Linked DNA regions of Homo sapiens: regions 1 and 2 are each linked to region 3. The links come from fine-mapping of genetic effects on gene expression. A gene starts in region 3. Each other region holds a variant in brackets. All regions are shown on one strand. Distances are from middle to middle.

Region 1 (10,512 bases), 45 kb after region 3:
CCTGTGGGCTGGAAGTGGCTAGGAGAACCTGTTTCTCTAAGCAGACTTGACAGCTCGCTGCCCTTGTATGATTTACCCCATACACCCCCAAGTGATTGTATCCTTCTAGGTTTTAAATAACAAGGTGAGTTTTCCCATTTCAATCATACTTCTTCCCCTTGCAATCCCACCTTAAATAAATGGAAAATTTTTTAGTAGTAGTGAAACAAGAAGGTCTTTGGGGACATATCGCTCTGGGTTTAATCCTGGATATGCCATTTACAAGCTGACCTGCCCCAGGGTGTCCGAGGCTCCCAAATGATCACAGTTTGGAGATGGCCACGTACACTAGATACATCCACACAATGTGATTAATTCCCTGCAGTTGCCAAAAAGCATGAAATAGATTCCTCTCCTTGTGGGATGGTCCCTACTGATAGGATTCCCTGCTTGGTGCCACAGAACCCTGCCTTATGGGCCACAGCAGATGTACCAGAGGATAGAACAACAGGTCACTGGCCCATGAAGTGGTCTTATGGCAAAGTCTTACTCAACAGGGGTCTGTGATCTTGGATGTCTCGATCTGGCAGATCATAGACTTCATCCTGCCAACTGACGAGCACAGTTCAGTTCAGGTCACGTCACTCATTTTCCTTTTAATTTAATGAATTACCATCATTAAAACATTGAGATAGTTTACATTTACAAACACCGTTTTTCATTCATTCGACTGTTTCAAAACAACATTCATGGGCCATCTGGTATGTGCCAAGACACGTTCCAGGTTCTGGAGGCTCAGAGGTAAATTAGAAACACACAGCCCCTACCATCATGGGTCTGTACCATTTTAGAAACAAGGCAGACAGTAAGCAAAAAGAAATATTCATAAAGTAATGAGCTCCAGCTTATTTTGAGAAATTGAAATATCAAAACTCACTGGGCCAGCAACTCCATTAGAGGACATAATAGAAAGATAGTGAAGAGCCATATCACAGTGGTTCTAGGTAAACAAAGAGCTCAAAGTCAGAGCCTCAAAGCTCTCTGGCCCTTGAAAAGTTGTGAATATCATCCTATTAGGCATACAGGATATGCTTCAGGCATACTGGGTGTCACCTGCAATGTCCAGCACGTAGTGAGTGCTTTATGAATGTCTGTCTCTTGAGTGATTGTGGAAGCTGTGCCTTTTCTGGTGACCAGATCATTGGGAAGAACACTTATTCATCCATTCAACAATTCCAGAGAGATTTGATTTTGTGAAGGACTCACTCTTGCAGAGGGTGTACAATTCAAAACCCACATAATTCAAGACTAACCCTGACAAAAAGATGGTGGGTGTGTCTATTCACCAGCTAAAGCGACACTAAAATAACAGTCACAGTTTACAATGTATGTGATTGGTTGTATTTGGAAGCATGAGAAACTGTAGCCATGCTGCATTTCTGTAAATCTACAATAACATCCCTCTTGTGACCCCAGCTTGCAACATAAAAAATAGCGCTTTGCCGGCTGGGCGCCGTGGCTTACGCCTATAATCCCAGCACTTTGGGAGGCCGAGGCGGGCGCATCACGAGGTCAGGAGATCGAGAACATCCTGGCTAAGACGGTGAAAACCCGTCTTTACTAAAAATACAAAAAAGAAAAAAAAAATTAGCCGGGCGTGGTGGCGGGTGCCTGTAGTCCCAGCTACTCGGGAGGCTAAGGAAGGAGAATGGCGTGAACCCGCGAGGCGGAGTTTGCAGTGAGCCGAGATCGCGCCACTGCACTCCAGCCTGGGCGACTGAGCGAGACTCCATCTCAAAAAAAAAAAAAAAAAAAAAAAAAAAAAAAAAAAAACCTAGGGCTTTGCCAATAACTCGCATATATTTATATAGCCCTCTCCTCCCCACTCCACTGCTTCTCCCAACCCAGAATAACCAACAGCCTGAATCCGGGGCATACCTTTCTCTGAATTTCCTTTCTGTACTTTCCCCCTCTTCAGAGCTTTTTGGGAAACTTCATGTTAATAATTTCAATCCGGTTCAGCCAGGCCCTGCTGTCCTAAGAACAAAAGCTGTCACTTAAAAATGACTTTGCAGTTGTTGCCCTCATCTGTTTTCATCCCATGATCTCTACAGCCCAGAGATCTTTGTTTCCAGGAAACAGCAGGGCTTTCCCCAGGCGGATGGGTTCTTTGAAGGAGGGGGAAAAAAAAAAGTCTTCTCCAGCTATTCTGTGTAGAGCGTCAGCACCACCGAACGCTAATGCTTGAATGGTTTAGAACTGCGGACAGCTCACGCCAGACAGATTCAGCACCACGGACAGCCCCCAAGGCAGCTCGTGATGTGAATGGTTCAGCACCGCAGACAGCTCAAGCCTCGCCGGACAGCCCTGCTGGAAGTGGTTCAGCACCACGGATAGCCCCGCTAATATCCATCAGAACCCCGGGCGGCTCAGGCCAGAATGGTTCAGCACCACAGGCAGCCCCCCAGGCTCGCAGGACAGTTCCCCCCAGCCTCGCAGGGTAGCCTGTGCTGGGACTCTTCCGGTATCACGAAGAGCCCTGCTGGACTGGTTCTGCAACATGGATAGGAACAAGTGTCATTTCGCCATCACCTGTGCTAGATGTAGACGCTCTTCTGAGCTGATTCCTGAGCCCCCTCTGCAACTTTCACCTCTGGAGACTCTGATGGGGCTATCTGGGTAATCCAGGCTCTTCTGGAGTTGACCTCAGAAATGCAGGCATCCAACAGTTAATATGCCCAAAAGGGAACTCTGGATTTTCCCCACAAAATAAACTTGATCTCACTTAGGGCACTTCAGGGCACTCAGTTGCTCAGGCCCAAAGCCCAGAAGTCTCCCTTGATTCGTCTCTTTCTGTCACACCTCGCACTCCACCCATTAGTGAGTCCTCTCAGCTCCACCTGTAGAGCAAATCCTGAATCTACCCACTGCTCTCCATCCCCATTGCCACTGCCTTACTCCAGGCCACCGTCGCTTCTCACCTGGTTTACTGCAAGAGCCTCCTAAGTGATCCTCCTACTTTACCGCCCCTTCTAGTGCATTCCCCACACAGCAGTTTCAGTGAGCCTTGGAAAATGTAAACCAGAGTCTATCATACCATTCCTCAGTACCTGCCACTATCTCCAATACACCTATAATAAAATTCAAAGATCTTCCTGTGGCTTTCATGACTCTGGATGCCTATCTTTTTTTTTTCCTTTTGAGATGGAGTCTCACTCTGTCGCCCAGGCTGGGTACAATGGCGTAATCTCGGCTGCAACCTCCGCCTCCCGGGTTCAAGCGATTCCCCTTCCTCAGGCTCCTGAATAGCTGGGACTACAGGCGCGTGCCACCACGCCCATCTAATTTTTGTATTTTTGGTAGAGACGGGGTTTCACCATGTCGGTCAGGATGGTCTTGATCTCTTGACCTCGTGATCTGCCCACCTCAACCTCCCAAAGTGCTGGGATTACAGGAGTGAGCCACCGCGCCCGGGCGCCTCTCTATCTTACATCCCATGACACTCTCGCTTTCCTGGTCACACTGGCCACACCACCTCCCTGTTGGTTCCTCAGGGCCTTTGCCTCTGGTGTGCTCTGTCCATGGTGCTGAACTCATTCAAGTGTGGATTCAACTATAACTGTCTCCTTTCCACCATTTGGTCCTTAGCTCAAAATATGACCTTTTCTAAAAGGCCTTCCCTGACCATCCCCACCTAAAGTGGCTTCAAAGTTACTATCACAGTGATTTATTTCACAGAATTTAGTACTTCACAGAATTTAGCACAAACTATATTTCATTTTGCATTTATTGGTTTACTTGACACTGTCTGTTTTCATCATTAGAATGTAAGCTCCATTAGGCCACAGACATCAGTTGCCTTAGCTACCCGGAACAGCATCTTCACATGGCAGTTGTTTAATAAATATTAGTTGTATGAGTGAATGAATGAATGAGTGGATGAATTCTCAGCCCTGCATTAATTTTTCTTTTCCTGGCTAGTCATGGAGCCCCAAAAAGATGTCAACAGCACTTACCTCCTGGTAAAATTGTGGTCCAGGGTTTGTGTTGGGGTCCCCAAGATCATCCGCAGGTTTGATGATTTCCTGGGAGGAGGACTCAAGAGAGACTCAGCACATAGTCATACTCACGGCTATGATTTACTACAGTGAAAGTATACAAAGCACAATCAACAAAGGGAAAAGGCCCATGGGGATAACACATCTGTACTCCAGCCCTTGGCTTGCTATGAGGCTATGGCAAGACAGAGAATGTGTTATGTTACAGTAGGATAATGAAGAATTGGAACCAATAATTCAATCTACCACACGTAGTGGTGGCATATAGCTATAATTTTTTAATCGTGATTTTATTTCCCTTTTAGGTTATGGCACTTGAAACTGGCTTTCCACTTATAGGAGTGCTGTAAAGTTTCCATTTAAAGGTACTTCTTAAATGGTTTTAGAAAATGAATTCATTTTAAATAAAAATATTAAGTAAATAGGAATGCAGGGATGTTATGTGTAAATGAAAGCAATCATGAAGATGTTACTCATTGCTGCAGAAACAGGGCAAACATTGAAAAAGGGTGTTTGAGAGGTTGAAGTTTGAGAAACATTAAAGACATAAAACAGGATTCCAGACACTTTCCCTTCATTGTTTTCTTCTGTTTAGGGAAGAAATCACCTCTAAGGGGTCACTCAGTAACATTCCTTTCGGCCAGGCACTGTGGCTCACGCCTGTCATCCCAACACTTTGGGTGGCCGAGGCAGGTGGACGACCTGAGGTCAGGAGACCAGCCTGACCAACATGGAGAAACCCCATCTCTACTAAAAATGCAAAAATTAGCTGCGCATGGTGGTGCAAGCCTGTAATCCCAGCTACTCGGGAGGCTGAGGCAGGAGAATCGCTTCAACCCGAGAGACGGAGGTTGCGGTGAGCCGAGATTGTGCCACTGCACTCCAGTGTGGACAACAAGAACAAAATTCCGTCTCAAAGAAAAAAAAATTTGTTCCCTCAGAATTCTGGGGAAGCCCCTCAAACTTGAGTCCATTTTGAAACAACCATAATTCATCTGGACTATCAGGATCATAACTGGAGATTTTTACCCCATATTGAGGACCTGCTGTTCAATAATTATAATGATAATACCAGTGACATTTACTGAGCACTCAAAATTAGGAGGCATATGTATTAACCTATATGATGTTCACACTAACCCTATGAGGTAGAAAATATTATTGTCCCCATTTTGCAGGTAAGGAAACTGAGACCGAGTTAATTCACTTCCCAAAGTTATACAGCTAGTACATTGTTAGATCTGCATCTGGATGCCCAGTTCCTAACCCTCTCAAGACTCTGTGACCTGGGGCAGCTCACCTGGTCTCCTGCACTAAATGTCTTGTTATCAAAGGAGGTGATGAGGATTGGATGAAATGTCTAATTCTTGACACTTCATCTCTCTTCTCTGCACACTCTGAACTATCTTTGGAATGGCAGGAAACTCATCTTCTAAACATAGAAATGAAGAAAGTTTCCCATCCCAATTACATAACCTATCTGAAAACTCGTAGGCAAACCCAATCTCAGTCCTTCCATAATCTTACTGTGTGTCCTTTGTACAACTCATTTAACTCCTTTGTGCCTCAGTTCTCTTCTCTGTTAAATGGGGATAATAATACTACCACTTTGGGCTGTTGGAATTAAATGAGATAATATTAACGAGATGGCTTTCCTTGTAGTATTTTTTTGATAAATGACAGTTATTTTT[G/T]TTTTTCTGAATAACCAGGGTAATTCAATTTTCTATCCATTAGGGAAAGGAGGTTAAATCCTTACCTCATACCATTCAAAAAAATTCCAGAAGGTTCAAACAAAATAAATATATAAAATAAGACTGTAAAATATAAGATTATACAGGAAAATGTGTTTATGAGAGTAAGGGGAGGCCAGGAGAAGTGATTCATGCCTGTAATCCTAGCACTTTGGAAGGCTGAGCTGGGAAGATCAGTTGAGGCCAGGAGTTTGAGACCAGCCTGGGCAACATAGTGAGACCCTGTTTCTACAAAAAATTTAAAAATTAGCCAGGTGTGGTGGCACATGCCTGCAGTCCCAGCTACTCAAGAGGCTGAGGCAAGAGCATCACTTGAGGCCAGGAGTTCAAGGCTGCTGTGAGCTATGATCACACTACTGCACTCCAGCCTGGGTGACAGAGTAAGACCTTGTCTCAAAGAGACAAGGAGGGGGAGGAGGGGCGGGGAAGAGAGGGAGAGACAAGGCTGAGGAAGGGCATCTTAAGACCCTAAAAGCAAAAAATAAATAAATAAATAAAAAGGATATCTTGTATTTTTATTAAAATTCAAAACTTCAGGCACTGTGTAAACACAATAAAAACATAAGGGAGGAGCCAGGAGAAAATATTTGCCACAGATAGAGTAACAGGCAAAGGATTAATGTGCAGAATATAGAAAGAATGTCTATTAATCAGTAAGTAAAAGCTACATAAACAAATAGAACAATGCGGAGAGGAGGAGATAAACGGGTAATTCACAGAAGAGAGAATAAGCCTGTTCAAATACATGTGTTTAATTCTCCTCACTAGTAATCAGGGAAATGTAGCTAAGATGATGCAGGGACGCCGTTTTCCCCCTACCTATGGCTTTGCCGAAAATTTTAAAAATTTAATGTAGCCTCCATGAGAGCAACTTGGCTGTAGTCACTGCATTGTAAATTTGAACAACAATGGTCATTGATAATAATAGCAGCTATTAGGCACTGTTGTAAGAACTGTACGTGTATTACTTATTATTGTTATTATTGTTTTACTTTCACAGAAATCCTGGGACTTGGTAACCATAATTATTCCCACTTAACAGCATGGGCAACCGAGGCACGGAAATGTTAAGTAACACACCCGAGGACTCACTAGTAACAAATGGCAAAGCCAGCCGCTGCCCCAGGCGGTCGGGCCTCAGGGTCCCCGGGCTGCCACCCCCTGCCCCAGCTCCTTCTCCCTTCCGCCCACCCCGGACTCCCGGTTTGCAGACTGGAGAACCACGGGGGGCGTACGCAAAGCCGCTGGCCTTGGGGCGTCTGTCGCAGGGTACCTCGAACATAACCTACGTGCTCATCAGCTAGAGATGGACCAGCTCGGTACCACACCCCCCTGCAACCACGCCGCGGGTACCCCGCCTCTGCGGCTCATCCACTCCCTTCCCCACGCGCCTCCAGGTGCAGGCTTCCCGGGGGTGGAGGAGGGGAGGAGGACACCCACGCTCCCCAATTCCCCCACCTCCCATCTCCCACCTCCCCCCACCCCCCCGCAGCCTCCGCGTCTGCGCAGCCGCAGTCAGTGCGGCGCCAGCTCTGCAGAGCCCAGACAGGGTCCGGTTGGGGAGGGTGAGTCCTTCGAGGGACCCCCGCGGGCGGGAAGGAGGCGGAGAAAAGGGGCTGGGGGCGCGGGCGGCGATCCGGGGATGCGCGCGCGAGTATGGATGCGCAGAGGGTGTGTGTGCCTGGGCGAGGGTGAGGGGCAGAACCGCTCCAGGGATAGGGTCCGGGGAGAGGGCGTCTCCAAGCCCGTCCGGTGGGAGAGGACCGGGGTCTGTCGGGGTCGGGTCTGTTTCTCCGCAGCGGAGGTCTGTGTCCTGGCTTGGGGGTTGCAGGTGAATTCCAGCCTCCTCGTGAGGAGGGGAGCACAGACCTGTGTACCCTCGTGGGGCGGCACGGGCACGTGCGCTCGTCTCGCTGGGGCTTGGTGTCGATGTTCGCTCCCCCTGGGGTGTTCAGCGCACCTGCCCGAGTGTGCACCTGTGCGTGTTCGCGTTGTGTGTCCGCCTGGGCCCCTGTGGACCACCCTGCAACGGTGGGAGCGCAGGCTCTCAGCAAACAGGTGCAGCAGCCCCGCCCCCACTCTTCTGAGCTGTGTGGCTTTGATCAGGGGACTTCCCTGTCTGTTAAATGGAAACCTAATAGTATCTGTAGCGAGAAGTATGGCCACCTTTATGTGAGAAAAGGGATTCGCAGGGCTCAGCAGGGCTGGGCACAAGGAGAGTTCTGGGCTCCGGGAAACACTGCCGGTATTTTTATTGCTTTTACTGTGGTTGCTGGTTGTCGTTGTTGTGACTGCGTCTCCATTCTCTCAGGGGATGACTTGTTTGCTATTTCACCATGAACACTGAGGCTGTGGGGTGTGAATCTCCTCCCCCCACCATACCTCTGTCTCATCCCCTTTCCTTCTTCCTCCTCCATTCACTGCGGATCCAGCTTCTCCTGACCTTGACCTGATGGCTGTCGTCTTTCCCATCTGTCACCCCGCTTGCCTGCATTTTCTCCTTTCTCATGCCTTCCCCTCCCCTCAACCTAGATCCATGATTAATTATGTCTCATATTAAAAACAAAGCCAAGCAAAACCCCAAAGCAATAAACAAATCAGAACTCCCTAATGGTACTCTCTAACACTCTTTCCCACGAAGGTCCCATAGGAATTTTCTTGCCCTGAAAAATGTCTAGGCAGCCTCCTCTCCTCACTCCCAACAGACTCCCCGGCCCACACTGAGGTTGCAAATGGGCAACCCCAGGGTCTAATTCAGCCCCACAACTTGTGCTATTTGACTAAAGGTGTCTTCCTGTTAAACACTGGAAATAATTATTGACATCATGAAATGTAGAAAATGCCATCTGAAAATATAGATTTCCAGTCTTCTTTTGAGAAATCACAGGATGGGCGACACCAGTCCCATGCGTTTGCTCTGCAGACATTAGCTGAGTTGCATGGTGCAGCTTCTTCAGACAGGAGACCTGATCTCTCTTGCCCCACTCCCCACTGCCTCCGTCGTCTCTCCCCATGCCATATATCCACTGCCATTTGTTCATGTGCTCCTTACAATAGAGAAGTATTTCTCTGGACCTATATTTAATTTTCATTTGTAGAAAAGTGACAGTAAAAGAGTCCTCTTGATTGACTCATTGATTGATTTTTGAGAGAGTCTTTCTCTCTTACCCAGGCTGGAGTGCAGTGGCACGATCCTAGCTCACTGAAGCCTTGAACTCCCAGGTTCAAAGGATCCTTCCAATATCTGAGACTACAGGCTCGTGACACCACACCTGGCTAATTTTTAAACTCCTGGGCTCAAGCAACCCTCCCACCTTGGTCTCCCAAAGTGCTAGGATTACAGGTGTGAGCCACCTCGCCTGGCTGATTTATTTATTAATTCATGTCGTTTCCTATCCCATTTGTTATATACAAATGTGCAGACTGGAGAATCATGTGTGGCTGTAGGTGTGTATATGAGTATGTGAGTGTGTATGTGTGTGAGTATGAATGTGAGTGTGTGTGACTGTGAGTGTGTATGAGTGTGTGTGTTAGTCTATGTGAGTGTGTGTGAATGTGGATGTGTGTGTGTTTGTGTTTGTGTTAGTGTGTGTGTATGTGACTGTGTGTCTGTGTGTGTGTATGTGTGGATGTGTTTATGTTTGTATGTGTGTATATGGGAGTATGTGAGTGTGTGTGTCTGCATGTGCCTGCCCATGACAATCACTCCCTTTCCAGCTTTGTCTCCAGAGCACCCTCTAGCGTTTGACCTGCTGTGTGCTTTATTTGTTCCCTGCCTGTCTCTTTGTCTCCCTACTAGAATGTAAGCCCCAGGAGGGCAGGAATCTCCACTTGATTACTGCTGTATTTCTAATGCTTACAGTCGTGCCTAGCCCCTGCTGGCCCTCTGTAATGATTCACTGAATGATGAAATGTCCATCAGTCCTCAGGTTCTGAATCTTGTGCCTGGAGAACCAGAGAGGACCCTGGAGCAGGAGGAGAAAGAGAAGCTTGTCTCAGAAGCTCCACCTCCTCCTGGGGCAATGCAGAGTCTCAGGCCTGAGCAGACACGGGGGCTGCTGGAGCCTGAGAGGACCAAGACTCTGCTGCCTCGGGAGAGCCGGGCCTGGGAGAAGCCTCCTCATCCCGCCTGCACCAAAGACTGGGAGGCTGTGGAGGTTGGGGCCTCCAGCCATGACAGTGATGAGAAAGGTGAGAGGCAGGGGTCCTTTGGGAGGTGAGTGGGTGGAGAGGAAGGAATTGGCAGAGCCTAGGGAAAGACTAAACATTCACTCCTTCACTCATCCATTCAACAGCTATTCATGGAGCACTGTGTCAGTCAGCTTTTGCTGTGTAACAAGTCATCCCCAAACTTAGGGGCTTAAAGCAACAATCACTTATCAGCTCATGATTCTGTGGGTCAGAAGTTTGACCTGGCTTCAGGGGACACTTTTCCTGCCTGTGCTTGTCTGTGCAGCCTCAGAGAGCTGGTGAGGCCACTGGTCGATCTCAGATGGCTTTACCCCCATGTCTGCTGGTGCTGGCTGTTGGCTGGCTTGGTGGTGCTGAGGACAGGCCATGTGTCTCCAGCAGGATTTTTCAGGGTTATCCTCATGGGGGTGCTTGCAGGGTTCTCAGGGATGGCAAGAGAGGGAATTCCCCAATTTTCAAGCACTGGAAGATTTGAAGAGGAAAAACACATGATCTCATTTGCATTTCAAAAATATTCCTCTAACTCAGTGGAT
Region 2 (10,512 bases), 27 kb after region 3:
GACTTCCTGCTCTTTTGCTGACCTGACTAGAGAAAAGGTGTGATCGGGTAGTTTTAATCTGGGTGGTGTGGAACTGTGTTTTCACAGCTGTCGTGGTTAAGGGCTGAGTGTTTGCTGTTTGCAGATGATCTCTACTGCAGGGTTTTAGCCTGAGAAAGGGAGGTGGCTTCCTCCCCTCTGTCCCTCTGCTGGTATGCTGCCCCCAGCTCTCCTGATTTCTCCAGGTCATGTTCACTCCAGGAGACTTCCAGCTGTATTCACAACCAAGACTCCTGGTCCTCTCCGATAGCTGCCAGCTCATATTCCAGAGCATCTCAGACTCCATCAGCCCCAGACAAAATTCACCATCACCCCTGGAGACAGTCTTCTCTCCACCGAGTCTACACCCCACACTACCATCTGTGCCAGCATCTGGGCATTGTGCCACACCCTGACTAGGGTCTCTAAACCACAATCATTCTCCTGCATGAAGTATTTCTCAGTTCTTTTCCTCTGAGATGGGAAAAGTGATGCATGGTAATATAGCCACTCCTCAGGAGCCACAGCTCGGGGGCCACACTGCCAGGGCTTGAATCCTGCTGTGCCTCAGGTGTATTGTGCCCTCGAGTACATCTCTGACTCCATTCTTGTATCTCCGTTTCCTCATCAGCAAAATGAGGATGGTCATAACTATCTACTACTGTATGTAACTCAAGTATGATTGTGAGGGTCTCCAGAGATCCGTGCAAATTGTTCAGCACTGTGCCAGGCGTGTTGCCAGTGCTCCATACTCGCTTATCTGGTACCTTCTGTGTGCAGGCTGTGTGAGGAGCTGGGGGGTGAGCAAGGCCCTTGCCTCTAGTGGAGCTGACTCCTGCTGGGGGCCGATAATAATCAGATCAAGGGACAGGCAGAGAAAAATTGCCACAGGTCACTGAGTGTTCATAAAGAAGTGGGCAGGAGGACCTTCCTTCCTTACGTAGGGTGGATTGGGAAGGCTCCCGTGGGGTTGTGGGGAAACAGGCCTGAAGGATAAGGACGTCCACGGCAGGTCCACAGGACAGTGGATGCAGAGGCCCTGAGGCAGGAAGAACACACGGACAAGAGGGAGAGCATGGTGATGAGAAACTGGGAGGGAGGGTGGGCAGGGGACGACTCAGGCAGGCCTGCTGGGTGCTGAGGGCCCTGAGGCTGCTGGAGGTCCTGGCATCATTCTCAGTACCGTAGGGAGGTCACGGGAGGGTTGATCTGACTCCTCAGAAGACCGCACTCCCGGAGGAGTGGAGGACGCATTGCAGGGGTGAGAATGGGGTGGGGAGGACAGAGAGGAGCTGCTGTCGCATTTCAGGCAAGGACCCGTGGTGGCCAGCCGGCTTTTTGTCAGTGGGGACCGGGAGATTTGGTCTGATTCAGGCTGTTTGCGCACAGCAATGCTTGCCAGCAGTCAGGACGGTGGGAGGGAAAGGGCAAGTCAGGATGTCTGCTAAGTCTCTCTAAAACAATTTTTTAAATTTTATATTTAAAACTGTGAAAAATATATAGAGAACATAAAATGTACCATTTTAACCACTTATAGGAGTACAGTTCAGTGGCCTTAAGGACATTGATGTTGTTGTGCAGCCATCACCGCCATCCATCCCCACAGCTCTTTTCATCTCCCGCAAATGAAACCCTATCCCCATTAAACACCAACTCCCACCCACTCCTCAGCCCCCGGCATCCTCTGTTCTACCGTCTGTCTCTGGGAATCCGACCTCCAGGTACCGCAGATGAGTGGAATCACATGGCATCCATCCTTTCATGTCTGATTTATTTTACTAAGTCTCTTTGATGGGCTTTGCTTTTTTAAAAAATGTTTTTCATGGGGAAAGTCTGAAATCCCAAGTTTCGTATCGGATGTGTTAGGCTTGGGCTATCCAGTTGAGATGCTGGGCTTTTTTGAACAGTTTGGACATAGCCCAGAAAGCAGGTCTGGGCTGAAGGTGTATGTTTGAGCAGCATCAGCCTGTGGATAACGTTTAGATCCAGACTCACTTTGTGTGGCTTTGAAGGTCCAGTGTGATTCAGGAGAGTGGTCTCAAACTCAGGTGGCCTCAGGAACTACCAGGTGGATCATTTATGTGGAGGAGGGGGACAGCTGCTGCCCCATGCAATGTCTTGTTGCCCATAAGAATGAGGCTCCACGTGGCCATATCTTCATGTTTTTTATGAGCTAGCAGCCACATGGACAGCAACTTTTAAATGCTGGGAATGAGTCCCCTGATGCAGAGTCTAGACTCCACCTAGGCTAGAAATCGAGGTTTAGAAATGAACAGGATACACGTGGAAGGTGATTGAAGCTGTGGGCACAGAGGTATTTAGCCAGGGAGGGTGGATGAGCAGAGAAAGAGGGTCTGAACCCAAGCTCCACGGAATGCCTGCCACCCAAGAACTAGGCAGCGTGTGACGTAGCAACAGAAGCAATTGTGAGACCCCAAGTCATGTGATTATTGTGGGCTCAAGTGAGCGGTCCTGTGTGTATGAACACTTAGTGCTGAGGCTGATGAGAGGGCTGGGGTGCGGGAGGGCTGGGGCCAGCCAGGGCAGGTGCGTGATGAGCTAGCGGGAGCCGGAGCCCCAGCCAGGGGAGAGGATCTTGCAGCCAGCAACCCTGGGGCAGCCATACCAGAGAAGTGGCAAAGGGGCAGGAGAAATGCCCGATTTTTCTCTCATTTCACTTCCAGTTTCCTGCCTTTGGCCAAACACACAGGAAGCCAGTGGGCAAAGTCAGCATCCTGAGCACAGGGCAGGTCAGAGAAGGGTGGAGAATAGAAAGTGGGTCGAAGGAGTAGAGAATAACCAACACATGCCATATAAATGCTAGCTATTTATTATTTCTTTATTCTTTTTCTTCTTTTTTCAATATTTATTTATTTATTTATTTTTTAAGAGACAGGGTCTCACCCTGTCACCCATGCTGGAGTGCAGTGACGTGATCATAGCTCACTGCAACCTCGAATTCCTGGGCTCAAGTGATCCTCCCACCTCAGCCTCTCAAGTAGCTGGGACAATAGGCATGTGCCACCATGCCTGGCTAATTTTTAAAAAAAAATTTAGTAGAGGCGGGGGTGGGGGGTCTCACTATGTTGCCCAGGCTGGTCTCAAGCAATCCTTGCCTCAGCCTCCCAAAGTGTTGGGATTACAGGCATGAGCCACTGTGCCTGGCCATCTTATTATTTCTGATAAAAACTGTTGCTTGAGGAGCACGACTGGTTGTGGATCTGCAGGATGAAGTGAGGAGGCCCTGCAAGTCAGTAGCCGGCTGCAGTCATTCCTACTCAGGTTTGCAGAGCCTGCCCTTTGCTCCCTGCAAGCCCAGCTCACTACTGCAGTTTCTCTCCAGGAGTGCCTGTCATCCCTCTTCTGAAGGGACATTTGCTCTCCCTGTTCACCTCCTGTGTTGACTCTGCTTCATAAACCACATTGGCCTCAGTTCCATGCCTCCCTCCTCCCTCCCTCTCTGATCCAAGGTTCTTCTTTGCTAACTCGCTCTGTGCCTTGGGCCTCATTGGGGTCGGTTTCATTTGCTCCTTCCTGCTGTGGAGCTTCCTCACTCCCAGCATCTTTAACTACATGTATTTGCATCTTCTGTTTTTGTTTTTTTCAGACTGGGAGACTAGACCTGAAATGAAAGAGTTGGATCCAAAGAATGACATTTCGGAAGACAAGCTCTCCGTTGTTGGGGAGGCCACGGGGGGACCCACGAGGAATGGTGCCAGGGGTCCTGGCTCAGAAGGAGTGTGGGAACCAGGCAGCTGGCCAGAGAGGCCGCGGGGAGATGCAGGTGCAGAGTGGGAGCCATTGGGAATTCCCCAGGGGAACAAACTCTTAGGGGGCTCAGTACCCGCATGTCATGAACTGAAGGCATTTGCCAACCAAGGCTGTGTCCTGGTCCCACCACGGCTGGACGACCCCACAGAAAAGGGGGCCTGTCCACCCGTAAGGCGTGGCAAGAACTTCTCCAGCACTTCAGACCTCAGTAAGCCCCCCATGCCCTGCGAGGAGAAGAAAACCTACGACTGCAGCGAGTGTGGCAAGGCCTTTAGCCGAAGCTCGTCCCTGATAAAGCACCAAAGGATCCACACGGGAGAAAAGCCGTTTGAGTGTGACACCTGTGGGAAGCACTTCATCGAGCGCTCGTCCCTCACCATCCACCAGCGGGTGCACACGGGCGAGAAGCCCTATGCCTGCGGGGACTGCGGCAAGGCCTTCAGCCAGCGCATGAACCTCACTGTGCACCAGCGCACGCACACGGGCGAGAAGCCGTATGTGTGCGACGTGTGTGGCAAGGCCTTCCGGAAGACTTCCTCTCTCACCCAGCACGAGCGGATCCACACGGGGGAGAAGCCCTACGCGTGCGGGGACTGCGGCAAGGCCTTCAGCCAGAACATGCACCTCATCGTGCACCAGCGCACGCACACCGGGGAGAAGCCGTACGTGTGCCCCGAGTGCGGGCGAGCCTTCAGCCAGAACATGCACCTGACCGAGCACCAGCGCACGCACACCGGGGAGAAGCCGTACGCCTGCAAGGAGTGCGGCAAGGCCTTCAACAAGAGCTCCTCGCTCACCCTGCACCAGAGGAACCACACCGGCGAGAAGCCCTACGTGTGCGGCGAGTGCGGCAAGGCCTTCAGCCAGAGCTCCTACCTCATCCAGCACCAGCGCTTCCACATCGGCGTGAAGCCGTTCGAGTGCAGCGAGTGCGGCAAGGCCTTCAGCAAGAACTCCTCGCTCACGCAGCACCAGCGCATCCACACCGGCGAGAAGCCCTACGAGTGCTACATCTGCAAGAAGCACTTCACGGGGCGCTCGTCCCTCATCGTGCACCAGATCGTGCACACCGGGGAGAAGCCCTACGTGTGCGGCGAGTGCGGCAAGGCCTTCAGCCAGAGCGCCTACCTCATCGAGCACCAGCGGATCCACACCGGCGAGAAGCCGTACAGGTGCGGCCAGTGCGGGAAGTCCTTCATCAAGAACTCCTCCCTCACTGTGCACCAGCGGATCCACACGGGCGAGAAGCCCTACCGATGCGGCGAGTGCGGGAAGACCTTCAGCCGCAACACGAACCTGACGCGCCACCTGCGGATTCACACCTGAGCGCCTCTGTGCAGGGCTCTCACTGGCGGTGCCCAGGACGGACGCCAGATGGCTGCGCGCTTTGTCAGCAGTGCTGTGAGAAGTTCTCCCCTGGGGTGGGGACTCGGGGTCAGGGGAGCTCAGGAATGTGG[G/T]GTTGTGGAGGGGCTGGCTGATCACACATGCCCCCTCCTTACTGAGCCTCAGAAAGCAAGCCCCTCGGTGTCTGACGTATCTGGGGACACTTCAAGGTTCACTGTAGCTGAGCCATGGCCGCTGGTAACAGACATCAGGGTTCCAGACTAGCCCTCTTGAGTAACTGTCCTAGAGCTGGGACAGGTCACGCCTGCCTCCACATCTCTGTTTCTTCAGCGGGAAAGTGGAGCTGGTGGAGGGGAGGGAGGAGACATCTCCCTCTTTGTCAGATACATCCTGGAGTCCAGATGCAGCTTGTCACCATCTGCATTTTCTCCGTGGGTTGGGAGCGTGAGGGCCTTCCTATCCCTCCACCCACCGTTTCCCTGCAGTGCACGCTGGCAGCCACCAAGCTAGGAAGTGGCAGGAGTTTGCCGGTTGTTTGTGAGGGGAAAAATTTTTTTTTCAGAGTTAGCAAATAACAGTAACTACTGCTTTGAATGCCAAAGTTTCTTAGAGTGGTCTGTTACGTTTTTTAAAAATAAAACTTTTAATTAAGGGAGACTATGTTATTTTAAACAGTCTTCTGTTTTGGCCAGTTGTCTGGTCAAAATCGGCTTCAGTGATTGTGGGAGGGGCAAGAAGGAAAAGAAACAGCAGCAGGTTTGATATTCAGAAAGAAATATGCATGGATTCAATAAGTATATACATCTGAGCACAGATTATTTTTATAGTGATTTTTGCAGCTAAATGTGAAGGCAACTGTCTTAAGTCCCTTCCTGCTGCTGTAACAAAAGACCTTAGACTGGGTAATTTATAAACAATAGAAATTTGTCACTCATGGTTCTGGATGCTGGGAAGTCCAAGATCAAGGCTCTGGCAGATTTGGTGTCTGATGGGGTATGTTCTTCATAGGTAGTGCTTGTGTCTTGATGTGTGTCTTCACGTGGTTGTAAACGGCAGACTTCCTCAGGCCCCTTATAAGGGTGCTAATCCCAGTCACAAGGGCCCTGACCTCATGACCTCCCAAAGGTCCTCCCTCTTCATACTGTTACATTGGGGATCAAGTTTCCAATATGTGAATACAGGGAAGCACCAACAGACCATATCAGTAACTTCGAGTGAGTTTCCTAAGGCCGACTGAAGCTCTGTTTACACATAAGAGTGTTCCCCAAAGTGCACTTTCTCTGGGGCCTTTTAGGCCATACTTTTAATTTTGTTATTTGATACTACTGGTTGCTAATGTTCTGGCATTTCCAGTTGTTCCACACTCCCTGACACTGGTGTACACAAATAAATAATACAGAAAAAAAATTATATCAGCAAGCACATTCTGCAAATAAGAAAAACAGCCACTCGGGCACGTATAAACAAGGTGGACCGTTTTTCAAATTCTGGCAGTCAAGTGGGCCTCAGGGTGGGTTTGATTCAGGCTCTCATCATTGGAGCCATAGCTGTGGTTCTCTGTGATGCTCTGGCTCTCCCTTCATACTTCTTAACATCATCCTCAGGCTGGCTTCCCACGTGGGATTGTGGTGGTTTCCAGCAGCGAGTCTTGATCAGACATTGCTTTAGTTGCATCTGTTGTGGGAATAAATGAGAATATGTATGCACTGCAGAGAATGGAGTGTTAAAACAGTCAACAAATGTTAGCTAATATGTACACAAGATTTTACTACTCTTTAGCAGCAAAATGGAGGGGAAGACCTTCTAAGGCCCTTTGGAGAGATGAAATGGCTCATTTAACCCTCACAAGATCCTCGAGGTAGGGATTCATGTGCATGTCGTATAGATAAGGAATCTGAGGTTCAGTGAGGCAAGGTAAGCTTCCTGAGGGCACACAACATGGAAGTGGAGGGGACAGGGTGTGAGCTGGGGTCCACCTGGGCTCCGAGGTCCGTGCTCCTTGCCTACACTGGACTACTTCTAGAGATGGACATATTGAATTTCTCAGGACTTGACTCCTGGCCTTGGTTTCCTGGACTCCCCAGTGTGTGAAGCAGAGATGGGATCGAGGCTGCACCACCACCATCCCCCTCTCCCATCCAGAGAACCAGCCGGGCCACCTCTCAGGTCCCTCCTGTTTCTTTTCTCTGCAACCCAAGCTGATGTGGAGGGCATTGAGGCTCCTCTGGGGGGATGCTGTGGTACCAGGTGGGTCTCACATCCCTGGTCTCCCGCCTCCTGGGCAAGCTCCCCACTCAGGGCTCCACGTTTCCCCAAGAGGAACCCTGAGGTGGCTGGAATAATGGCCACATTGACGGAGTCACTTGTCCAACTCTGAGGGGGCGCTCTCATCACCCCCACTCTACAGATGGGGAAACAGGCTCGCAGAGGTTCAGGCACCTGCCCAAGGTCACACAGCTGCTGGATTCAAACCCATTCTGACTCCAGAAGCTGGACTGCAGTCCACGGCACCACTCCACCCACCAGTTCCTCAGTCAGGTACTTACTGAAGCCAAATTAAATTTACCCCCCTGAAAATGTGGGTTTGGCAGGGATCAAGCAGGTCAGGAACCTGCTTTTTAACAAGTCTTCTATCCCATACATCTGTCCAAGGCACTATTTGGGGTTATGTGCTGGCCTTCGAGTTCACCCTCACTGGGCCCTGTGTCCCTGTGTCCCTGTGTCCCCAGGCCTGACCCAAGCCTGGCCTTGAGGTAGAGGTCATGGGTGCTGGGTGGGGTCTGAATGACCCCTTTATCACTTGGAGTAAATGCCAAACTCCTCACAAACCCCTGTGTGACGCAGCCTCTCCCAGCTCCCGTCCCGCTCCCCCTGCTCACTCTGCTTCAGCCACACTGTGCTTTCGTTCAGTCCCAGCGCTGGCCCAGCCCACTCCCACCGCAGGGGCCTCTCCCTTCCTGGCCCAGCACCCACGCTGAGCTTCCTCAGGTCCCTGATGCTCAGTTTCACGTGTCGGCCTGGCTGGGCTCCAGTGCCCAGCAGGCCCATCGCAGTGAGTCCCGGTGGTGCTGAGAAGACACTTTATAGATGTGGATGTCACCCATGTCAGCTGACTTTAAGTAAACGATTATTATCTGCAATGTGTGTGGGCCTCATCTAATCAGTTGAAGGCCTTAAGAGCAAAACCAGTTTCTTGGAGAGTAAAAAACTCTGCCTCAGGATTACAGTGCCAACTCCGGCCTGAGTTTCCAGCCTACCAGCCTACCTTATGGATTTGGGACTTGCCAGCTCCCACAGTAGCATGACCCGGTTATTTAAATTAAATCTATTTATATATAAAAGTATACATATGCCATATGTATAACAAGAAATATGAGGTATATAAAAGGATATGTATAAGATATATATAGGGTAGGGCATGGTGACCCACACCTGTAATCCCAGCACTTTGGGAGGCCAAGGTGGGAGGATTACTTGAGACCAGGAGTTTGAGACCAGCCTAGGCAACATAGCAAGACCTCATCTTTACAAAACGTTAGAAAAATTAGCCAGGTGTGGTGGCGTGTGCCTGTGGTCCCAGCTACTCAAGAGACGGAGGTGGGAGGATTGCCCGAGTCCAGGAATTAGAGGTTGCAGTGAGGTATGATCATGCCATTGCACTCCAGCCTGGGTGACAAGGGAAGACTCTCTCTTAAAAAAAAAAAAAGGTCAGTCAGTCAAGGTGGCTCATGCCTGTAATTCCAGCACTTTGGTAGGCCGAGGCAGGCAGATCACCTGAGGTCAGGAGTTTGAGACCAGCGTGGCCAACATGGTGAAACCCCATCTCTACTAAAAATACAAAATTAGCCGGGCATGGTGGCATGTGTCTGTAATCTCAGCTGCTTGGGAGACTGAGACAGGAGAATCACTTGAACCCAGGAGACGGAGGTTGCAGTGAGCTGAGATCATGCCACTGCACTCCAGCCTGGCCGATGGTATGAGACTCTGTCTCAAAAAAAAAAAATCTATATGAGATATATAATGTATATATAATAAATGCATAATATATATAATAGCATATATATGATATATCTATATGGGATATATATGATCTAAATAAGGCAATCTATATGATAGGACATATATAACTATATTAAGTTGTATCACTACTGCCTCTCTGGAGAACCCTAACTGATAACAAGGCCCTCCCTGATCGCCCTTCTTCCCCTGCTTCGTATTCCCCATCACACGCACTGCAGTCTGTATTGATACTTGTTTTCTTTCTTTACCATCCATCTCCATCACGGGCATTCAGGTAGAGATCTGGATGTTGCTGGTTCTGCTCACTGTTGTTTTCCCCAGCACTTGGCACGGCACAGGCACAGGCAGATAGTAGGTGCTCAGTAAATGTCCGTTGAATGAAAGAGTTAATGGTAGGTGCTCAATAAATGCTTCCCGGCTGAATCACGAATAAGCAAGTGAGTTTTCTGAGGCAGCAGCCCATTCCACCCTGGACCTAACATAGTCCCTGGAGACCTGGATCTGACTTGGATTCCTCAGCCTTTTGTCCACTGCCCCTGTCTGATTTAAAATGTAGGTTTTATTCTTATTCTGAGAAGGTGAGGCCCATAGGTCAGGAGACACCAGGGATTGAAAAGAGAGTTGCTACAGTTCCTGAGAGGCGAGGGCAGTGCCAGGCCACACAGGGAAGCCCAGGGCAGGTCAGGAGGTGGAGGGGCTGGGGGAAGACGGGGGCAGGAGCTTCTCTGTCGCTTCCACAGCAAGGAGCAGGATTGGCTTCTCTGAGTAATTTAGCGGTTCTGGGGCACAGGGGCTGCCCTTGTTGTCTGGTTCTCAGCCCTGGATGAGGGCAGGTGCACAGAGCCCCTGAGTGTGGGAGCCCAGTTGGGGAGGTGCTGGGTGTGGGCTCTGGATTGGGTGGTTTGCTTGTGAAAGGCACGCTCTCAAGGGGATTCTTTGCCGTCTCTAGGAATCACCTGGATCTGGGAGTGACAGTCCCTCCAAGGTCGGCAAGGCTTCAAAATGTCAAAGCATCAGAAAATAAAAGGCATTGTTCATACAATCTTTGCTCTAGCCAGAGATAATCCCCTGCATTTGGCCTTAGCATGGGCAGCCGGAGAAGGCTCTGGGCCCAGATCTTGGCTGAGGGGCAGCCTCAGGAGACCCAGGCTGCAGAGGGAAGGCCCTTCTGCTCCTCCCTGCCTGGACACCATCTTATTGTAGGAATCCCAGTCAGTACCCGGGAACCCAGTGCGCCTGCCCCAGAGCATGATGAAGGGGCCTCCTGGGTGGACTGATGCCCCTGGCAGCCGCAGATTCCTGGGCTGAGAATGGTCCAACTGAGAGGCTGGGCCTCAGCTCACAGCCTCAGATATGGGG
Region 3 (10,512 bases):
ACTCGACTTCAAGACAGAGCTATTGTAATCAAGACAGTGTAGTGTTGCCTAAAGAATAGAGAAGGAGCAATGGACCAGAATAGAGATCCCAGAAATAGAACCACATGAATATAGTCAGCTGATCTTTGTCAAAGAAGCAAAGGCAACTTAATGGGGAAAGAACAGTCTTTTCAACAAACAGTGCTGGAACAATGGGATGTCCACATGGAAAAAACAGACACATTTTTCACAAAATTAACTTAAAATGGATCATAGATTTAAATGTAAAAATGCAAAATTATAAAACTCCTAGAAAGTAACAGGAGAAAATCTAGGTGACCTTTGGTTTAGCAATGAGTTTTTAAATACAAGATTGAAAAGCACAATCCAAAATAATTTAAAAAAAGAAAAAAAAAGCACAATACATGAAAGAAAAAAATTTATAAGTTGTTCATTAAAATTAAAAACTACTCTGTGGGCCGGGTGCAGTGGCTCACACCTGTAGTCCCAGAACTTTGGGAGGCTGGAGGCGGGTGGATTACCTGAGGCCAGGAGTTCGAGACCAGCCTGGCCAACATGGTGAAACCCTATCTCTACTAAAAATACAAAAAATTAGCCAGGTGTGGTAGCAGGTGCCTGTAATCCCAGCTACTCGGGAGGCTGAGGTGAAAGAATCGCTTGAACCCGGGAGGTGGAGGTTGCAGTGAGTTGAGATCGTGCCACTGCACTTCAGCCTGAGCGACAGAGGGAGACTCTGTCTCAAAACACAACAAAACAAAAAACAAACAAAAACTTCTCTGTGAAAAAATACTGTTAGACTTAAAAGACAAACCACCATTGGGAGGACATGTTTTCAAAACACATAGCTGCTAAAGGACTTACATACAAAATATACAAAGATCTCATAAAACTCAACAATAAGAAAGCAATGCACTTGAAAAATGGGCAAAAGATCTAACAAAAACTGCAAAGAGGATATACAGATGGTAAATAAGCATGGAAAAAGATGCTTACCATCATATTACCATCATATGTCATTAGGGAATTGCAAATTAAAGCAACAAGATATGACTACACACTTATTAGAATGACTAAAATCCAAAAAGAACTTTCAATATCAAATGGTGGCAAGATTGTGGACAGCAGTTCTCATTCATTGCTGTGGGTATGCACTTTGGAAAACAGTTTGGTGATTTCTTACAAAGCTAAACATACCCTTGCCATATGATCTAGCAATCACACTCCTGGGTATCTGGCTAGGATTTGGAAAAACTGCTCTCATAAATTGATGCCAGGAATGTAAAATGGTACAGCCACTCTGGAAAACAGTTTGACAGTTTGTTAAGAAGAAAACTAAACATACTATATGACCTAGTAATTACATTACTGAGCATTTATCCCAGAGAAATGAAGAGTTATGTTCACACAAAATCCTGTAATAAGAAAACAATTACCAGTGGGAAGAGGCAGCTTACTAATTGGGAGGAAATATTTGCAAACCATATATCTGATAAGGGGTTAATATTCAAAATATATAAGGAACTCCTTCAGCTCAATTACACTAAAAAACAAATTACCCGATTTAAAAATGGGCAAATGACTTAAGTAGACATTTTCCCAAAGAAGACATATAGATAGCCAACAAGTATATGAAATGATGCTCAAACATCACTGATTATCAGGGAAATGCAAATCAAAACCACAGCAAGATATTACTTCATCCCAGTTACAATGGCTATTCTCAAAAAAAAACAAACAAACATAACGTGTTAGGCTGTGGAGAAATTGGAACCCTTGTTTACTGTTGGTGGGAATGCAAAGTAGTGGTGCTTCTTGGAAAACAGTTTGGAGATTCCTCAAGAAATTAGAAGTAGAACTACCATATATTCCTGCAATCCCCATCTGGGTATATGGCCAAGGAATTGAAACTAGGATCTCAAGGAGATCTCCAGGAGGTTGCAATGAATAATGCACTTCCATGTTCATTACAGCATTATTTACAATAGCCAAGAGATGAAGACAATGTACATGTCCATTGACAGATGGACAGATAAAAAAAGTGACACACACAGACACATACACACACAATGGCATATTTTTAAGCCCTAGAAAAAGAAATCCTGTCATATGCGACAACATGGATAAACTTTGAGTACATTATGCTAAGTAAAAGAAGCCAGTCACAGGACAAATACTTTATGATTCCACTTACATGTGGAATCTAAAATAGTCAACCTCATAGAAACAGAAATTAGAATGGTGGTTTCCAGGGGCTGGGGGAGGTGAGAAGACGTTACTCAACGAGTATAAAGTTTCTGTTATGCAAGATAATTAAGTTCTCTCTATACAGCAACTTGAATATATCTCCAGAGAATTGTGCTGAATGAAAAAAGCCAATTCCACCATTCACATACTGTATGATTCCATTTGTATAACATTCTTGAAATGACACAATTGTATATATGGAGGATAGACTAATGATCGAGTCTGGAGGAAAGTGAGTGTGGCTATAAAAGGGCAAGATGAAGGATCCTTGTGGAAATATCGGAAGAGATCCTTGTGATGGAAATGTTCTGTCTCTTGAATGGACCGACGTCAGTATCCTACTTGTGATATTGCAAGATGTTGCCCTTGGGTGAAATTACCTAAGAGACATAGGTCTCTCTGTATGATTTCTATATTATGTTTTACAACCTGACGTGAATAAATCCACATTTATCTCAGAATAAAATATTTCATTTAAATACATCATTAATCACCACCTAAGGCTAGCTGCTGTTGATGGTTTTGTGGCCACTTGGACATTCAGCAAATGTTTTTAAACTTGGCTTTGTGGTTTACTATAGAAAAGGGTCTCAGCCAGGCATCTGGTTCCTACCTTTCCTCTTGTGTAAGCTCCCCTGTCTGTATTACCCAACTAATCTGGAAAGTAGCTTGGCTGTGAAGATTGTTTATAAATCATAAAATGTGGAGACCAGGGGTCAGAACAAAGGAAACTCACAACAAGGATTAATGCTTTTTTTCTTATATCTAAAGATATAGGGAATTGACATTTAAAGATCTAGTTGTTTTTTATTTGCAATTCTAGAATCCAGCCACACCTCCTTCTATAAAATAGAACTAGTGTTCTGGTGATCCAAGCAGAGGAATATGGCTTCATACACAGAAACGGGCTGAGGAAAGCAGAAACAGAGAACAAGAGTGGATGGGTCATTTCAAAGTTACTTTCCCTATCATGGTTAAAGCAAAGGGGATTTCTTTTATCATGCCTGCTAAACTGGCCTGTTTGGGACTTGGCTATTATCTCTCTCTTTCTCTCCTGAGAGGAGGTCAGGTAACAACTTAGTTGGAGTTGGTGGCCTGGAACTTCAGCATGAGTAGCTCCATTTCGATTTGATCTGTTGGGCCTAGTGCAGGAACTCAGTCCAAACCGATAGTCTCCTATACATTTTATTCTACACCTATGCTCATTTTCTTCTTTGCACATCTGTATGCTTAAAAAGTGTTCTTTAAAGATAAGCATGATTATCAGGTTTAAAGTTGCCTGGGATGGTCCCTCAGGCCAGTCCATTGGCTGGACTGCAGAAATGTCTGCAGCAGATGTGACACGCCTCTTTTATCCCCCTCATTTCTCTGCCTCCACCCATCCCTTGTCCTTTTCTGTTTTCCTTCCTCCCTCCTCCCTCTCCTTACCCATTCTTTCCTCTCTTCAGCCTGTCCTGCCCTCCCCAACTCGACTTCCTCTTTCTTTCCTCCTTTTCCCACCCTTTTCTTCTTCCTTATAGTCCTTTCCACCTTCTCATCCCCCTTTCCACCCTTTCTTCCTTCTCCTCCTTGCCGTCTCCATTCTCTTCCTTTCCTGCCTCCCTGCCCCTCCCTCCTCCCACCCGCTCCCTCTTCTTTCTGTTGGTTCCTCTCCTCTCTGACCTGTTCTTTTCCCTTAGTCTCTCCCCAGCCCTTCCTCCTTCCCCTCCATCCTTCTTCCAACCCCTCCTCCTTCTCCATCTCTTCTTCTTCCTCCCCAGCTCTCCTCCCCAAGTCCCTCTCCATCCTCTCTCTTCTCCCCGCTCCTCCCCATCCCTCCTCCCCTTCCATCCTTCTTCCCACCTCTCCTACTTCTTTTCTCCCTCCTCCCCCCTTCCCTCCTGTCCCTCCTCCTCGCCCCTCCTTTCCCTCCGTCTTTCTTTCCACCCTTCCTCCCTCCGTCTCTTCTCTCTCCTTCCCTTTCCCTGCCTCCTCCCCCTCAATCCTCCCTCTCGCCCCAGCCTCCTTGGCCGCGGAGTCCTCTGTGAGATGGAGGAGCTCAGTTGGCTCCGCTCGGCTCCACTCGGCTGGGCTCGGCTGAAAAAAGCCGGGGGGAGGTGGCGCGCGCGGGTTTCTGGGAAGCGTAGTCCGGCGCAGTCCGCGCAGGCGCACTGCCGTCGGGCGGGCCTAGCGGGCGCGGTCATTGTCCTGGCAGAGCGGCGAGCCGGTGAGTGTGGCTGCGGGGTCGCGCCCACCCTCTACCTGTGCCGGGGGCCGGAACCTGGCCCCGGGGAGGGCGCGGCCTCGGGGAGACGGCGTGCAGGCCCAGGTACGGGGAGTGCAGGGCTGGGTGCTGGTCCAGGGCGTGCGGGCGCAGGAGAGGGCGTGCAGGCCGGGACCGAGGTGCGCCTGGAGAGGCTGAGCGGCCGAGGAGAGGCTGAGGGGAAGCTGAGGGGCTAAGGAGAGGCTGACTGGAGGCTGAGGGGCTGAGGAGAGGCCGGGGCCAGGGAGGGAGAGGCGTGAGTGGGTTGGAGGTAGGAAAGTTGCATGAACACGAGGGCCATCCTGGGGGGAAGGTGGCCTGTGTGAGAGACAGGCAGTGCATATCATCCTGAGGATGAGGCTGTGTCTTTGTGGATATTGTGAATGTGTCTGTGTGTGTGTCTGTGTGGGTCTGTATGTGTGTGTGAGACAGATTGTGTCGTCCTGAGGGTATGGCTGTGTCTCTGGATATTGTGATTGTGTGTGTGTGTTTGTGTGTGTGTGTGTGTGTGTGTGTGTGTGTGTGTATGAGACAGAGAGAGAAACTGCGTGTCGTCCAGAGGCTGGGTCTGTGAATGAATGTGAATGTGTCCATGTATGTCCGTGTGGGTCATGTGTGGTAGCGTGTGTGTGTGTGTGTCCCACTTCTTCAGAGTCTTGGTCTCTCTGTGGAGCTGTGTCTCTCCAGGTCTCTGCCTATGCATGTGTGGTGATATCTCTGAGTGACTGCCTGTGTCCTTGTCTTTGGTGTTGTGGGTGTGTCAGCCTTGATCTCTGTCCATGAGTGTCTCTGTGGGAGGGTGCCCTCTGGGTGTCCACTATGTCTGCTCTTTCCATGCATGTCTCTTGGCATGAGTGTAGGGCTGTGTCTTTCCAGGGGCCAGTCCTGTCTGGATCTTTCCTATCTCTGTGTGTCCACCTGTGTCTAGAGTATTTCTTGATGTTTGCGTGTGACTCTGCAGGGGTGGGTGCGTCTGGGTGTGCCTCTTCCAAAGACTATATGCCTGGACAAGGGAGCCTAGCAGAGCCACTACCTTCTCACCCTACGCTTCTCCTAGTCTGCCTGCCCACAGTTCCCTGGCTTTTTCCTGCCCATAGAAGGCTCTGGAGGCGTAGGGGCCTGGGAGTGACAGGGGCCGGGTGGAGGAGGGGAAAAGGAAGGCTGTTTCTTCTGCCTCCCACAGGATCTTCTTAAAGTGGGATCAGACTCCCAAAGGGTCTCTGTGCCCTACTCTGTTCTGACCAAGGAGAGGTTGATTTGTTCAGGGAATGTGTATGCAGCCAGTGCTGGCCATTTATAGATGTCCCAGTAACTCTGAGGTAGAGACCATCATCATCCTTATCTTACAGATGGGGAAACTGAGTCTCAGACTAAGTGACTCACCCAAGGCTACCTCAGGCATCCAGGTTCCAGAGCCCCCACAATTAACCACCAGACAAATGGGAGATCCCTTTTTTCCCTTTCCGCTCAGCTGACACAAGGTTGCAGGATTTTCCCCGAGGGAATCCCCGCTTGGAAACAATGGAAATGGAAGAAAGGAAGGAAATGCCAAAAAGCTCAGAGGAAGAAGAATCCAGATCTAAGGCCAAACTGGGTTCAACAGCCACTGGCCATACTCTTGGGCAAGTCACTTCCAGGGCCGCTGCATGATTTTTAAGGGTACTTTGCCTTCATGGGCCCCTTGCTCCATTGTTTTTTTAAAGCACTAAAAATTACATTTTGTTATTTCATTAATAGGAAGACAAATGTAATCTAGGCTGGATTAGATATTTTCTTATGATTTTAAAAGAAATTAAGACCTTCCTATGGGCCCCTAAAGGTTTCATGGGCCCCATGCTCTGTGCCTACTGGGTAAGTGGGCTCTGGTCACTGCTGTGATCTGGCAAAATGGGCCAGTGTTCTTGACCTCACAGGACAGGGGTGAAAGAGACCACTATCTGCAAGGAATTTTTTTTTATATTAAATTGTGTTTCAAAAATGTTGATGGTAATATGAAGTTTCTACACCCAGGGAAACAATTCAAAGGAAGAGAAAGAAAAAATAATTAATAACTTCTACCCCCTTCTCATTCCCACTCCATGCCCTCCAGACACCAACCCAGCCTCATTCCACAGCCTTCCCCAGGCTGGAAGATGCTGTACAGATGTGTCCACATCCACATGTTTTGGTTTGTTTTTTCACAAAGGGGCTAAAGGTATGCATAAAACTGGGTAACTTGCTTTTCTCACTTAGTGAAACCACAGACATGTCAACAGATGCAGAACTAACTCTGCTTCGCAGAGGCGACCTGATACTTCATACTATGGAGACCCTACCCTCGATTTGATTCCTTTAGTAATGTTTATTAATTTTGTTTTCAGGGTTTTTTTTTGCCTCTAGAAACAATGCTGCCATAAATATCTTTTTTTCCTATATGTAACTTTTACACGGAGCTTTTATTGGTGTGGGCAGATTCCCAGGAACAGGGTTGCTGGGTTATGGGATTTGTGTATTGCCAGCTCACTTTCCAGAAAAATGTTGAGCGACTCACATTCCCTCACCAGTGTGTGAGAGGGCCTGTTCCTTTCAATCCTGGCCAGCACTAGAAGTTAGCTCATCTGTTCATTCAGCTTGATGTCTAAGTGCCTCCTGTGTGTTAGACGTTGTCCTAGATGTCGGAAATACAATCTGAAAGTGATCATCCCTGCTCCCTGGGGGCTTCTGTTCTCATGGAGGGAAGACAGATGACAAACTTGAAAACAACTATTTTAAAAAAGACAGTTGTCAATAGTGGTTTGTACTGCAAGAAAATAGAGGGGGAGAGAGTTGCTGCTTGAGGTCAGGTGATTGGGGGTAGAGGACTTCTCCAAGGAGGTGACGTTGGAGCTGACCAGGAAGCAGGGGTAGTCATGGGAAGAGCATTCCCTCCAGAGGGAACAGCAGATGCAGAGGCCAGGAGGCCTGGGGCCAAGCATGGGAGAGGGGAGTAGAGGAGATGGAAGGGGAGAGGCCATCAGGGGCACATCATAAGGGCTATGTGGGCAGCAGTGAAGACTTTGAGTGATTTCTAATGGTGGGGGAAGCCAACGAAGAGTTTTGAAGAGTTTTAGCCCAGAGGACATTTTCACTGAGTGATTACAGTTGGCCAGGTGTGGTGCCCGGGTACAGGCATTAAGTGGTAGGAACCCCCAGCCCACACCTTTGTGATCCTTTTGTTCTACAACAGGGCTTCTCAACCTCCACACTACTGACCTTTGGGCCTGATCATTCTTTGTTGTGGGGCCTGTCGCGTGCATCGTACAGTGTGTAGCAGCATCCCCAGTCTCTACCAACTAAACGCCCATAGCACTCCCCTGCCAAATTATGACAGTTTGGCAAATGTCTCTAGACGTTGACAAATGTCTCCGGGGGCAGAATTGTTCCCGATTGAGTTCCAAAGGCTTCTGCCAACTTGGCCTTATATATATGCCCCCCTACAATTAAAATTACTTTTCACTTGTGGAAGTTGGGGCCATTTGGCCTAAGAAAGGCTCTTCTTTGTCTTAGTGGTTCTTACGCTTTAAGACGTGTCAGAATCACCTGGGAAACTTGCTTAGAAATACCGATTCAGGGGCCCTACCCAGGTAGTTTGATTCAGAGGATCTGAGGTGGGGGGCAGGAATATATATTCTGAGTGAGATTTTAATAAGCATCCCCAGTGATTCTGGTACTTTGAGAATTGGTGCACCAGCTACAAGAGCATTGTGTTGGAGAGGATTGAGGCTTTTCTGGGTGATCTTGAAGGGTTGGAGATGTAGAGAGGCATGTTTCTGTTTATAGCAGAAGAAAAACTCATTTCCAGTCAGAGGTGTTGGTGGCACGGGTAGTGAGCCCCCATCACGGGAGAAGCCAGGACTGAGCCAGCATGTCTCAGACTCCAAGAATTTGTCCTCATCTGTGTCATGGATCCTATTTTTTTACTTTGCCATTTACTTGATTTGGCTCACTGATTTTTTTTTTGTTTTTAATTTAAATCAACTTAGTTTAAAAGGGTATTCTGTGTGACTGCTGTAAAAGAAGCTGAGTTTTGCTGTAAGAAGGGAAACAAACTTTAAAACAAATTGAAGTAAAGCCAGGTAGTTCTAATGAGATATTATGGTCACCCTAACTTTGGGGCCTGAACCCTGCTTTTCTTTTTAATTTTAATTTTTAATTTTTCTGGGTGTGTAGTGGGTTTATATATTTATGGAGTACATGAGATATTTTGATACGGGCATACAATGTGTAATAATCACATCAGGATAAATGGGGTATCTGTCACCTCAAGGATTTATCCTTTGTGTTACAAACAATCTGATTACATTTTTAGTGTTTTGTTTTTTTTTTTTTTTGAGATGGAGTCTCGCTCTGTCACCCAGGCTGGAGTGCAGTGTTGCCATCTCAGCTCACTGCAAGCTCCGCCTCCTGGGTTCATGCCATTCTCCTTCCTCAGCCTCCCGAGTAGCTGGGATTACAGGCACCTGCCACCACACCCGGCTAATTTTTTGTATTTTTGGTAGAGACGGGGTTTCACCGTGGTCTTGATCTCCTGACCTCGTGATCCGCCCGCCTCGGCCTCCCAAAGTGCTGGGATTACAGGCATGAGCCACTGCGCCCGGCCAGTTATTTTTAAATGTATCATTAAATTATTATTGATCATAGTCACCCTGTTGTGCTGTCAAATAGTAGGTCTTATTCATTCTTTGTGTGTGTGTTTTTTTGTTTTTTTGGGGTTTGTTTTTTTTTTTTTTTTTTGAGATGGAGTCTCGCTCTGTTGCCAGGCTGGAGTGCAGTGGTGCAATCTTGGCTCACTGCAACCCTCTGTATTTTTTTTTTTTTTTTTTTTTTTGAGACGGAGTCTCGCTCTGTCGCCCAGGTCGGACTGCGGACTGCAGTGGCGCAATCTCGGCTCACTGCAAGCTCCGCTTCCCGGGTTCACGCCATTCTCCTGCCTCAGCCTCCCGAGTAGCTGGGACTACAGGCGCCCGCCACCGCGCCCGGCTAATTTTTTGTATTTTTAGTAGAGACGGGGTTTCACCTTGTTAGCCAGGATGGTCTCGATCTCCTGACCTCATGATCCACCCGCCTCGGCCTCCCAAAGTGCTGGGATTACAGGCGTGAGCCACCGCGCCCGGCCCTCTGTATTTTTTTAATACCAATTAGCCATCCCCACATTCCCCCCACCCTTCCACTACCCTTCCCAGCCTCAGGTTTCTTCATCATTCTAGTCTCTATCTCCATGAGTTTGTTTTAATTTTTAGCTCACACAAGTGAGAACTTGCAAAGTTTGTCTTTCTATGCCTGGCTTATTTCACTTAACATAATGACCTCCAGTTTTATCCATGTTGTTGCAAATCACAGGATCTTATTCTCCTGCTTTTCTTTTGTTTCAAGGGGCGAGTGATGGGTTGCAGGGATGTTAAGATATCTCTCCACTTGAGACTTTATCCTGAGCTTGTCAGGAGAACTGGAGGAGAATTGAATCAAGATGCATTTCTCTAGGCGAATCTGGCTCTGAGAGCCCCTGGGTGGAAGTTCCTTACACTCATATCTGCTAGTTGAACCTCATGGTAACCCCATGAAGTCTGGGGGAAGTGCCCAAAGAGGCCACAGGTGGTTCTGGGGCATCTCAGGGGGCCTCAGTCCAGCACTCACACTCAAGGAGGGATCCGGGCAGGGCCATTGGGAGAAGGCAGGGTGTCCGGTGGCCCTCAGCAGCCTGCGGGAATGTGTGTGAGTGTATGTGTGTTAACCATATCTATAGGAGTGTACATGGGAGTGCATCTGTGAGGCATTGTAGCCTGGAGGCTAAGCTGTGGACCCAGACATACTCTGCCTGACTCCAGTCCCAGCTCTGTAATCTTGAGCAAGTGGTTTAATCTCCTCGGGCCTCAGCCTCCTCATCTGTGAAATGGGTAGGTAGAAGTAGTACCTACCTTCCAGGATGGTTGGAAGATCAAGTGATATACATTCAAGTTCCCTACATGCAGTAAGCCCTCTAAATACTCACTGTTGATGTATGTGTATGT

What was found. PIP is the estimated chance that this variant, and not a neighbour inherited with it, causes the effect.
Region 1: its variant is fine-mapped to the expression of ZNF71 in monocytes after interferon gamma (Fairfax 2014, PIP 0.95).
Region 2: its variant is fine-mapped to the expression of ZNF71 in esophagus muscle (GTEx, PIP 0.96).

What each region holds. Positions count from the first base shown.
Region 1 is chr19:56,635,858-56,646,369 of GRCh38, forward strand. SMIM17 (small integral membrane protein 17) reads left to right here and starts at 7,302. Exons shown (of 4, transcript NM_001193628.2): 1 at 7,302-7,353; 2 at 9,711-9,979. The coding sequence starts at 9,811. ZNF71-SMIM17 (ZNF71-SMIM17 readthrough (NMD candidate)) reads left to right here. Exons shown (of 5, transcript NR_163263.1): 3 at 9,711-9,979. RefSeq lists silencers at 2,144-2,438, 2,236-2,447. The variant G/T (reference allele first, on the strand shown) is at 5,729.
Region 2 is chr19:56,617,643-56,628,154 of GRCh38, forward strand. It overlaps ZNF71 (zinc finger protein 71), which reads left to right. Exons shown (of 4, transcript NM_001370215.1): 4 at 3,626-6,844. The coding sequence ends at 5,115. The region is part of intron 2 of ZNF71-SMIM17 (ZNF71-SMIM17 readthrough (NMD candidate)); the gene reads left to right. Among named protein-coding and RNA genes, the nearest start is that of SMIM17, 20 kb to the right of the region's middle. The variant G/T (reference allele first, on the strand shown) is at 5,247.
Region 3 is chr19:56,590,877-56,601,388 of GRCh38, forward strand. It overlaps ZNF71 (zinc finger protein 71), which reads left to right and starts at 4,426. Exons shown (of 4, transcript NM_001370215.1): 1 at 4,426-4,552. It overlaps ZNF71-SMIM17 (ZNF71-SMIM17 readthrough (NMD candidate)), which reads left to right and starts at 4,426. Exons shown (of 5, transcript NR_163263.1): 1 at 4,426-4,552. RefSeq lists a silencer at 4,388-4,777.